2 separate regions of the Homo sapiens genome follow, and region 2 is linked to region 1. The links come from fine-mapping of genetic effects on gene expression. Tissue or cell type: sun-exposed skin. Region 1 holds a variant in brackets; the other region holds the start of a gene. All regions are shown on one strand. Distances are from middle to middle.

What was found. PIP is the estimated chance that this variant, and not a neighbour inherited with it, causes the effect.
Region 2: TCN2 starts here. The variant in region 1 is fine-mapped to the expression of TCN2 in sun-exposed skin (GTEx, PIP 0.99).

What each region holds. Positions count from the first base shown.
Region 1 is chr22:30,647,574-30,652,741 of GRCh38, forward strand. It overlaps SLC35E4 (solute carrier family 35 member E4), which reads left to right. Exons shown (of 2, transcript NM_001001479.4): 2 at 1-320. It also overlaps a transcript of DUSP18 not described here. Among named protein-coding and RNA genes, the nearest start is that of SLC35E4, 14 kb to the left of the region's middle. The variant C/T (reference allele first, on the strand shown) is at 2,887.
Region 2 is chr22:30,604,787-30,609,896 of GRCh38, forward strand. TCN2 (transcobalamin 2) reads left to right here and starts at 2,388. Exons shown (of 9, transcript NM_000355.4): 1 at 2,388-2,609. The coding sequence starts at 2,546. It also overlaps a transcript of PES1 not described here. RefSeq lists enhancers at 2,174-2,753, 2,256-2,550, 4,536-4,830, 4,605-4,884.

The DNA of each region.
Region 1 (5,168 bases):
GTGGGTCCAAGCCTGGCACAGTCCCTGTGCTTGTCAGAGTCATTATTATGATTAATATCAATTACGATGCCAAAAATTGCTGGGCAAACTTTGAAGACCTCAACTTGTTACAATGACGATGATGATGATTCTTGGCGGTTACACAATCCTTCCTCCTGGGGGGGAGGCAGCTAGGAGGCCCAGCAGGGGGGCTTCTATGCTGCTGGGCTCCCCTAGGGAGTTGGGGTAGTCTGTGCCAACTCCAGGCAGCTGCTGTGGCCTCACCCCTGGGCCCCCCAATTTTGGGTCATCCATCCTCAAATACACTATTTTTGCTTGTATGCCTGTGTCATTTGTTGGTTGTACAGAGGGGATATAGGGAGAGTGGTAGGCTTCCCACACAGAAACTAGGACATCCTCCCTTACCCATCGCAGTCTGTCTGGCCCCCCACCCCGAGCCCAGTGCCATTCCCTCAAATCCCTCCACTGGCTGGGCTACCATTGCCCATCTTCTGGACAGTGGCAGTGGCCTCCCCCTTGCTCTGCCTGGCCCCTCTACTCCATCTTACACACAGACCCCTTCACCCAGAGGGATCTCACTAAAACGTGCACATTCTGATGTTCCTCACTGCTCTTGGGACAAAGTCAGAATTTCCTACCCCAGACCCCAACTCACTCAGGACGTGGCACCTGCAGCCTCACCCAGCTTGTCTCCCTTCCCCTGGGCTCTGCCTTCCAGCCTCACCGACTTCTTTCAGTTCCCCGTGATACCAGGCCTGCTCACTGAAACCTTTGTACATGCTGTTCCCTCCGTCCAGTCCCCGCTTCCTACAACAACCTCCTCCCTTCCCACAGCTTAAACCCCTGCCTGGAGGAGAAAACCCAAACATGCAACTCTTTTTAAAAAGAGAAATCCAGGCCGGGCGCGGTGGCTCACACCTGTAATCCCAGTACTTTGGGAGGCCAAGGCGGGCGGATCACCTGATGTCAGGGGTTCGAGACCAGCCTGGCCAACATGCTGAAACACCGTCTCTATTAAAAATACAAAAAAATTAGCCAGGCCTGCTGGCGTGCACCTGAGGCAGGAGAATCGCTGGAACCCAGGAGGCAGAGGTTGCAGTGAGCCGAGATTGTGCCACTGCACTCCAGCTTGGCCAACAAGACCGAAACTCCATCTCAAAAAAGAAAAGAAAAATCCAATCGCTTGAGGCCAGGAGTTGGAGGCTGCAGTGCACTATGATCATGCCACTGCACTCCAGCCTGGGTGACAGAGCAAGACCCTATCTCTTTCAAAAAAAAAAAGGGCTGATGAGGGTCTTGACAAGGGACTGTGCTCAGGAGGCTTGCAGGGGTATAGGGGAGCAGGGCTCCCATGTAGGGAACCTAAGACAGGAGTCCCAACCCCCAGAGCTCCCTGACTCGCCAGCTGGCGTCAGCTTTGTTATTTACCTCTGAGCCTTTCCTTGGCTCTTGTAACACCTAACTCTCCCCAGCCAGCTACCTCTCCTGGAGATCACCTGTTAAAGATGATAAGGACCCAGTTGGAGTGAGAACACCTGGAACCTAATCCTGCTCTGCCCACCTGACTGGGAGCCTCCCTTCCCTAGGCCTCAGCTTCCAGATCTGCAAAATGGAACTGATGATCCCTATGGAGAGGGTTCGAATGAGGAGCGCTGGGCAGGGCCAGGAGTGAGGAAGGAGGTAATGGCACCAACTGGCTCTGCTTTTATCTTGGGGTATTCACCCAACCTTTCTGGAAACCATCTGCAAAATGTCTCCCATTTGTGTGAGGACTAGGAGCTAGACCAGGCTGGGGCTGTGGTCTATGGAGACTGAGATTCAGGGAGGAATCATTCAGATTCAGTAACCAGAATTCGTAAGGGACCACAGTGCCAGCAAGTGCTAGACAGGGCTGAGTAAAGGGCCAGCCCACGGCGGGGTGGGAGTGGGTAGGGAAGGCCTAGGAGGACCGGTATGGGGTTTCCTGGTTCCAGCCTCCGCCCAGGCTGCCTTACAGAAGGGGAAGTCGGCCTGGGCTGAGTCACCTGTCACCCACCCTCTCTATGACTCAGAGATGCCGCTGGCCCAGCCCAGTCCCTGAGCAGCTTGGGTACCTCTGGCCTCCACTCTCAGGCTTTGCCAGGCAGGATGGAGGGATGGATGGCTGTGGTCAAATCCTCCTCGGTGACTCAGGACCCTTTCCCATCCAACTGGCCCCCACTGCCATAGCAGGGACCTCCCTGTACCACCCTCATTTCTAGGCCTTGTGGGATGCTTGGCTAATGAGTGAGCCTCACATCAGATTAAAGCCTGCCCCTGGTGGTTGTGGGGACAGGTAATTGGGGTTGTGTGTGACCTGGGAGCTGGTTTGTCACCAGATTCAGGACCATTAGACATTGAGGTGATTCCCCCAAGGCCACAGCCAAAGCCATGCCTATCACCCCTCCCAGCAGTGGGCACAGAGAGCGCTGGATTGGGAGTCAAAAAGCTTGGGTTTGGTGGGATGTGGTGGCTCACGCCTGTAATCCCAGTACTTTGGGAGTCCGAGGGGGGCGGATCACCTGAAGTCAGGAGTTCAAGACCAGCCTGGCCAACATGGTGAAACCCCGTCTCTACTAAAAATACAAAAATTAGCTGGGCATGGTGGCAGCCGCCTGTAATCCCAGCTACTTGGGAGGCTGAGGCAGGAGAATCGCTTGAACCTGGGAGGCGGAGGTTGCAGTGAGCCGAGATCATGCCATTGCACTGTAGCCTGGGGGACAAGAGCAAGACTTCGTCTCAAAAAAAAAAAAAATTAGACGGACATGGTGGTGGGGACCTGTAATCCCAGCTACTCGGAAGGCTGAGGCAGGAGAATCGCTTGAGCCTAGGAGGCAGAGATTGCTGTGAGCCAAGATTACGCCACTG[C/T]ACTCCAGCTTGTGTGACAGAATGAGACTCCATCTCAAAAAATAAACAAAAATAAAAAAGAACAGGGGCTCTGGAGTTTGACTTGTGCTCGAATCCTGGCTTTGGTACATCTGAGCTCTGTGACCTTGCACAAGGTCCTCTCCACCTGTGCCTCTGTGCATTGAGTGGGGGCAGCAGTGGAACCTAATCCCCCACCAGCTTCTGGAGCTGTAATGGACAAAGGCCTAGGAAGGCCTCAGTCTTATCACAGATGCTTCCACTTCCTCCTCAAGGCTTCTCGTGTTATCTGCCCCACCCCTCCTCAGCCTGCCAGAGCACATTTGAGAGTCCCCCAGGCATGCTCCCGCCTGAGCATAGCAGCGTGGATGCCAAGCCTCCAGCCCCCTTGTCCTGCTTTGGAGGAAGCCTGGGAAGCTGGGTCTGTGCTGGGCATCCTGCCATTGTGGACTTCGAAACAAAGACCTGTCTCAGGCCTAGCTGCCTGGTGCCCCTTCTACCCTCCCCTGGTGGCCCTTGGATTGGCATTCCAGGGGGCCAGGGCAAACAAGGATTGTGAGTCCTTGTTTGGCCTGGCCCCCTGGAAGGAGTAGCTCCTTCATGCTACTCTGCCCTCAAATTAGCTCAGGGATGTCAAATCCTCCACCACTGCACTAAATAACTTCCTGGAAGTAGCACAAAATACTTAATTGAGGGCCACTTAATGGAGGACCACGAGAGGTTTTGAGCCATGATCTTTTATTTCTTTTCTTTTCTTTTTTTGAGACAGAGTTTCGCTCTGTCGCCCAGGCTAGAATGCAGTGGTGCAATCTTGGCTCACTGCAACCTCTGCCTCCCAGGTTCAAGTGATTCTTCTGCCTCAGCCTCCTGAGTAGCTGGGATTACAGGCATATGCCACCACACGTGGCTAATTTTTGTGTGTGTGTGTGTGTGTGTGTGTGTGTATATATATATATATATATATATATATATTTTTTTTTTTTTTTTTTTTTTTTTTTTTTTTGGTAGAGATGGGGTTTCACCATGTTACCCAGACTGGTCTTGAACTCCTGACCTCAAGAAATCCACCTGCCTTGGCCTCCCAAAGTGCTAGGATTACAGGCGTGAGCCACTGCGCTTGGCCAAAATAAACATTTCTTGATAAGTAGACCTTCAATTTAGTCTGGACCCTATGTAGAGAAAAAATTGGAGGGGCTCAAGACAGGAGGCAGGAAGACTAGGGAAGACCTGTTGTTGTGGTCTAGGTAACTCCATGACAGTGGGGACAGTGCTAGGGCAGAGTGGGTATCGGTTGTATTGATTTAGAGTAACAATTTATCTCAAAATCTTATGGCTTAGAGCAACAAACATGTAGTATCTCACAGTTTCAGTGGATCAGGAATTCGGGAGTGGCTTAGTGGGTTGGTTCTGGTTGAGTTTCTCATTAAGTTGTAGTCAAGATGTTGGTCTGAGCTTCAGTCATCTGAAAGCTTGGCTGGGGCTGGAGGATTTGTGGCCCCCCAGTGGGTTCACTTTGCCCACTGCCTAGACAAAGCTGATTTATCAAGACAGGGGAACTGCAATAGAGAAAGAGTAATTCACACAGAGCCTGGTGTGCAGGAGACCAGAGTTTTACTATTACTGAAATCAGTCTCCCCGACCATTCAGGGAGCAGAGTTTTAAGGACAACTTGGTGGGTTGGGGGAAGCCAGTGAGACAGGAGTGCTGATTGGTCAGGGATGAAATCACAGGATGTTGAAGCTGTTTTCTAGTGCCCAGTCAGTTCCTGGGTGGGGGCCACAAGATCAGACGAGCCAGTTTATCAATCTGGGTGGTGCCAGCTGATCCATCAAGGGCAGGGGCTGCAAAATATCACAAGCACTGATCTTAGGAGCAGTTTAGGGAAGGTCAGAATCTTGCAGCCTCCAGCTGCATGACTCCTAAGCCATAATTTCTAATCTTGTGGCTAATGTTAGTCCTATATAGGCAATCTAGTCCCTAGGCAAGAAAGAGGTCTGCTTTGGGAAAGGGCCATTATCATCTTCATTTTAATCTATAAACTATAAACTAAGTTTCTCCGAATGTTAGTTCAGCCTATGCCCAGGAATGAATAAAGACAACTTGGAGATTAGAAGCAAGATGGAGTCAATTAAGTTAGATCTCTTCCACTGTATCAGTCACAATTTTGCAAAGGCGGCTTCAGATTTACATTCAAAATGGGGCATTCACGTGGCTGTTGGCAGGAGGCCTCAGTTCCTTGCCATGTGGGCTTCTCCATAGGGCCCCTTGAGTGTCCTCAACACATA
Region 2 (5,110 bases), 43 kb before region 1:
TCTTGATCTGGCCAGGTGCAGTGGTTCATGCCTGTAATCCCAGCTCTTTGGGAGGCTGAGACAGGAGGATCGCTTGAGCCCAGGAGTTCAAAAATAAAAAAAATAGAAATCCTGATCTAAATGATGTAATCATTTTTGTTTTTCACATTCCCTGACCACATGACCTGAAATAGCACTACCCCTGACCAGTCACTCTATTTCTTTTTTTAATTTTACTTTATTTTTAGGACAGGGTCTCCTTCTGTCGCCCAGACTGGAGTGCAGTGGTCTGATCTCAGCTCACTGCAACCTCAGCCTCCTGGGCTCAAGTGATCCTCCCACTTGTAGCCTCTAGATTAGCTGAGACTTACAGGCACACACCACCATCCCTGGCATTTTTTGGTTTTGTTTGTTTTTTAGAATCAGGGTCTCACCATCTTGCCTAGACTGGTCTCAAACTTGTGGGCTCAAGCAATCCTCCTGCCTTGGCTTCCCAAAGTGCTGGGATTACAGGCATGAGCCACCAGTATTTCTAATATGTATGGGAAATATGCTGTCTTCCTATTCCTACTCCCCCACCCTCTAGCACTGAGTCCAGGTAGGTAGGCAGGGGGGTGTCTCCCTCCTTTACTTCGACACCCTAACTACCTTGGGGATCAGAAGTGACTCTCTGGAAGGATGCTGCTGCTTCTCACCAGAGGCTGACGATAACGAAGGCTATCCTCCATGGCCACCTCCTCCAGGCTGCCTTCCTGGAAATAGGAATCATAATAGTTGTTACTGGAAACAGGCAGAGGGTTGGGGGAGCCAAGGCAGTCCCACCCAGGACCAAGGTGGCTCCATTGCACACACTTCACCATGACTCCCCTGAAGGTCCAAACGTGCGGTTCTGCGGAAGTTGGGCTCCCCACTGGCCTCCCTCCTTCCTCAGAACCTCCAGGGGTGCTCCTCCTAGTGGCCACATCCAGCCTTTCTGACTGGACAACCTATCATTTAAAATTTTCAAGTAGTTCCGTAAACAGACACACGTTGCTGTATTTATTTATGTCAAGGGCTTGGTTTGTGATAAATCAGGCTCAAAAAGATTGTCTTAAAAGAGTGAACCTTGGCAATTTACCATAAAATAATTGCAATGCAGATTGTGCATGGAAATGATTGGAGATATTTTAAGGTCATAGTGTCTTCACAAATTGAGCTGAAAGGGAACTGTTAGGATGATCTTGCCTAACCCTCTCTTCTCACACAGGAAGAACTATTTTAAACTCGAGAGGTTAAGTGACCTGGCCAAAGTCACACAGCCACCACTAGTTAACTCGTATACATTGATTCTCCTGTGGGGCTGGGCAGATGAGGAATCTTTTGTTCTCTTCCCTGTTTGCAGAGATTTTTTTTGAGGTTACTTTCCGAGTTCTGGCAAGTACCCCTGCTTCTGGTAGCTTTGTGTCTCGATTCAATCTCATTCTTTTTATTTTATTTTATTTTTGAGACAGGGTCTCACTTTGTCACCCAAGCTGGAGTGCAGTGGTGTAATCTTGGCTCACTGTAGCCTCCACCTCTTGGGTTCAAGCGATCCTCCTGCCTCAGCCCCCCAAGTAGCTGGGATTACAGACGTCTGCCACCACGCCAGGCTAATTTATGGTTTTTTGTATGTGTTTTTTGTGTTTTTGTAGAGACAGTGTTTCCCCATGTTGCCCAGGCTGGTCTCCAACTCCTGAGCTCAAGTGATCTGCCCGCCTCAGCCTTTCAAAGTGCTAGGATTACAGGTGTGAGCCACCGTGCCCGGACTTAATCCCATTCTTTAACTTGTTTTGTTTTGTCCTCTCCAGGAGGCTCCCAGCCCTTTCGGATTGGTTGAGAAAAGTGGCCTGGCTGGTCTGGGGCCAGCGGCACCCACCCTCCCCTCAATTGCCCAACTCCCCCCCCCCACCGAACTGCCCAACTCCCCCTCCCCAACTGCCCAACTCCCCCACCCCCACAATCCCCTCCCGCCACAACTGAGGGAGGCGGTGCTGAAAAACAGCTGACTCCAGCAATGCTGCTCACGTGACCACTGCAGCTGCAGCTCCCGTTCCACTCCTTGTCCTGGGCTAGGTGGGCACTACCAGGGGCTCCTTTGGTAAGGAGTACCGGGTAGGCACCCGGTCCTGCCAATCCACCACTGGAACAGCTGGGGGGACAGCAGACAGGCACGGTCGGACAGACTTGACAGATCAGGCATCAGGCCCTCTGCGCTGGTCCCGGGCTCTTTAAGCAGGAACGTGAATGGCCTCAAGATGTCTCACATGGTCCCACTAGCCCTCCTCCTCCCTTTGTTCCCTACCTCCAGGAGGGCTGCTCTGCCCTTCCTTCCTCTGTTCTTTGGCCTTATGTTCCCCGCCACCACAGACCTTCCCCCGCCCCACCCCTCTGCAGACTTAGCCGTGCATTGCAGGCATGGAGGATTAATCAGTGACAGGAAGCTGCGTCTCTCGGAGCGGTGACCAGCTGTGGTCAGGAGAGCCTCAGCAGGGCCAGCCCCAGGAGTCTTTCCCGATTCTTGCTCACTGCTCACCCACCTGCTGCTGCCATGAGGCACCTTGGGGCCTTCCTCTTCCTTCTGGGGGTCCTGGGGGCCCTCACTGAGATGTGTGGTGAGTAACTCGCCTCTATCCTGTGCCTCTTTCCTCCTGGGTCCTTAGTGGGGTGGCTAGGGCATAGGATGAGGGAACTTACCTGCCCTTCTAAGCTCCCATAGCAGTTTGGGCTTAGCTGGACCTCAGCATTTAACACATCCTATTGTGATTGATTATATGTTTGACTCCTCACCAGACAAGATCTCCGTTAATTCAGTCATTCGTTCACACATTCATTCAGCGCATACTGAGCCTTTTCTGTGTCAGGCCCAGTGTTAGCCTTTGGGGAACGTGCAAAGCATGAGACAAGTCTAATCCCTGCCATCCTAGAGCTTATGTTCTAGGGAAGGGGGACAGACAAAAGAAATGGTTAGGTGCTCCCACCTGAAATCTCAGCATTTTGGAAGGCTGAGGCGGGAGGGGAGGATCGCTTGAGCTCAACAGTTCAAGGTCAGCCTGGGCAACATAGGGAGACCCCATCTCTACAAAAAATAAAAAAAATTAAAAAATAGCTGGGCATGGGGAAGACTTTCTGAAGACCAAGAGGACACATGGGAGCTGAAACTCGAAGGAAGAAAAGGAGCTGGCAGGAAAGGAGTGGGGGACACACATTCTAGGCAGCAGGAAGTGAGCCTTCGGAGGTCCTGCCTGCTCCAGCTCTGTGCCCCAAGGGGTCTCTTGGAGCACAGTCTCCTGGGACCTGTCTATGAGTCTGAGCTTAGAGGCTCAGGGCTGCTCCTTCAGACAGGAGGCAGAAGGCAGGCTTTGGGAACTTTGGGCCGCCCACGCGCCTTTTCTCCTCCTCTGCACCTAGGATTACGTTGAGCAATACACTTTCACCCCCATGGTCTCTTGAGACCCTGGGGAAACCCTGAGAGGTGGGTGCAGTCATGTCCAGGTGTCAAGTGAAGAAGTCGAGGGTTGGAGGGGCTGAGTGACCCACTCAGGGTGCTCCACCTTTTCCAGAGCTTTGCTGAACTTAGTTTTTAGAACTTGAAGCCTCGTTTGTTTTCGTTTTGTTTTTTGTTGAGAGAGGTTCTCCCTCTGTTGCCCAGGCTGGAGTGCAGTGGCACGATCTTGGCTCACTGCAGCCTCTGCCTTGTGGGTTCAAGTGATTCCCCCACCTCAGCCTCCCAAGTAGCTGGAGACTGCATGTGCATACTACCATGCTTGGCTAATTTTTGTATTTTTTTGTAGAGACAGGGTTTCGCCATGTTGCCCAGGCTGGTCTCGAACTCCTGGGCTCAAGTGAAACTCTTGCGTCGGCCTCCCAAATTGCTGAGATTACAGGCGTGAGCCACCGTGCCCGGCCAGAACTCCAAGCCTCTCATCTGTGTTCCATAAATGCAATCAGACACCTCAGGTCTGGGCCCAGGAACCCCAGCTCTTGGTTCATGTCCGGACAGTCCCCAGGGGAGTTCTGGGTTCAACCAGCAAGAGCTCTTCCTCCTGGCTGATCTGGTCCTCAGCCTTGGACAGTTAGTCCATTAACCTGACCCCACAGGAGCCCCAATCCCTTGGGGTCTGGGGAATCTTGAACTGGGGTTTGGGGTGCAAATATCTGCACTGAGTCACTTAATTGCACCCAGCCTCATTCCTTTATCTGTAAAGTGGGCTAAGAATGCTCCCCTGCCTTCCTCCTCGGTGTAGTACAAGGAAGGATCCCATGACACCTGCTCTCCCAGTTTAAAGCTCTATATGTATGTTGTGAAATTGACAGGGATCGCTGCACAAACGCTAATGCAAAGTGGGCTCCTGTGCTTCCTTTTCTCTTTCTTCTTCTTTTTTTTTTTTTTAATTTTCTTCTAGAGATGAGGTCTCACTATATTGCCCAGGGTTGGTTTCAAACTCCTAGGGTCAAGCGATCCTCCCACCTTGGCCTCCCAAACTGCTGGTATTACAGGCGTGAGCCACTCTGTCTGGCTCCTGTGCTTGTGAATGTCAACAGCAATCAGCCCTTAGCTGGCAGGGCTGGGTTGGTAGGGCGAGAGCTCACCCAAGGCTGCTTTTATTACCCTGCGTGAATCTGCCTGGCCCCTTCCTTCTAAGGAGGTTGCTCTGTGGTTGTCAGTCTCTCCCTTTACAGCTGGATCCTGATCTTTCAGTTTCTAACCCTGTGCTGACTCATCGTGCTGGAAGTGAGAGCCCGGGGTGAGGTCAGGGAACTCCCTTGCGCGTTTCAAGAAAAGGGAAAAGGAAAGAGAGGTGAGGAGGGGGGCAGATGACCAGAGAGACACAGGCTGAGAGAGACTGAGACAGACCCAGAGAGCCTCACACATTGAGTGACAGAGACGGAGAAATGGAGATAGGCACCAAAAAATGGTTCTCAGTGACAGAAAGGGAAAAAAGCAACCCCCCAGTCTCTCTTAACATCTGGTGAGAAACCAGCCATGTGCTTTGGTCTGGGCCCACACAGCAAAGGATTATGTAGGGTTTCATGCTGGTGGATGGTCACCTTATAGCAACAGGTATCTGGGGCTGTCGGGAAAACAGACACGAGGTTGTGGGACCCAGACCCA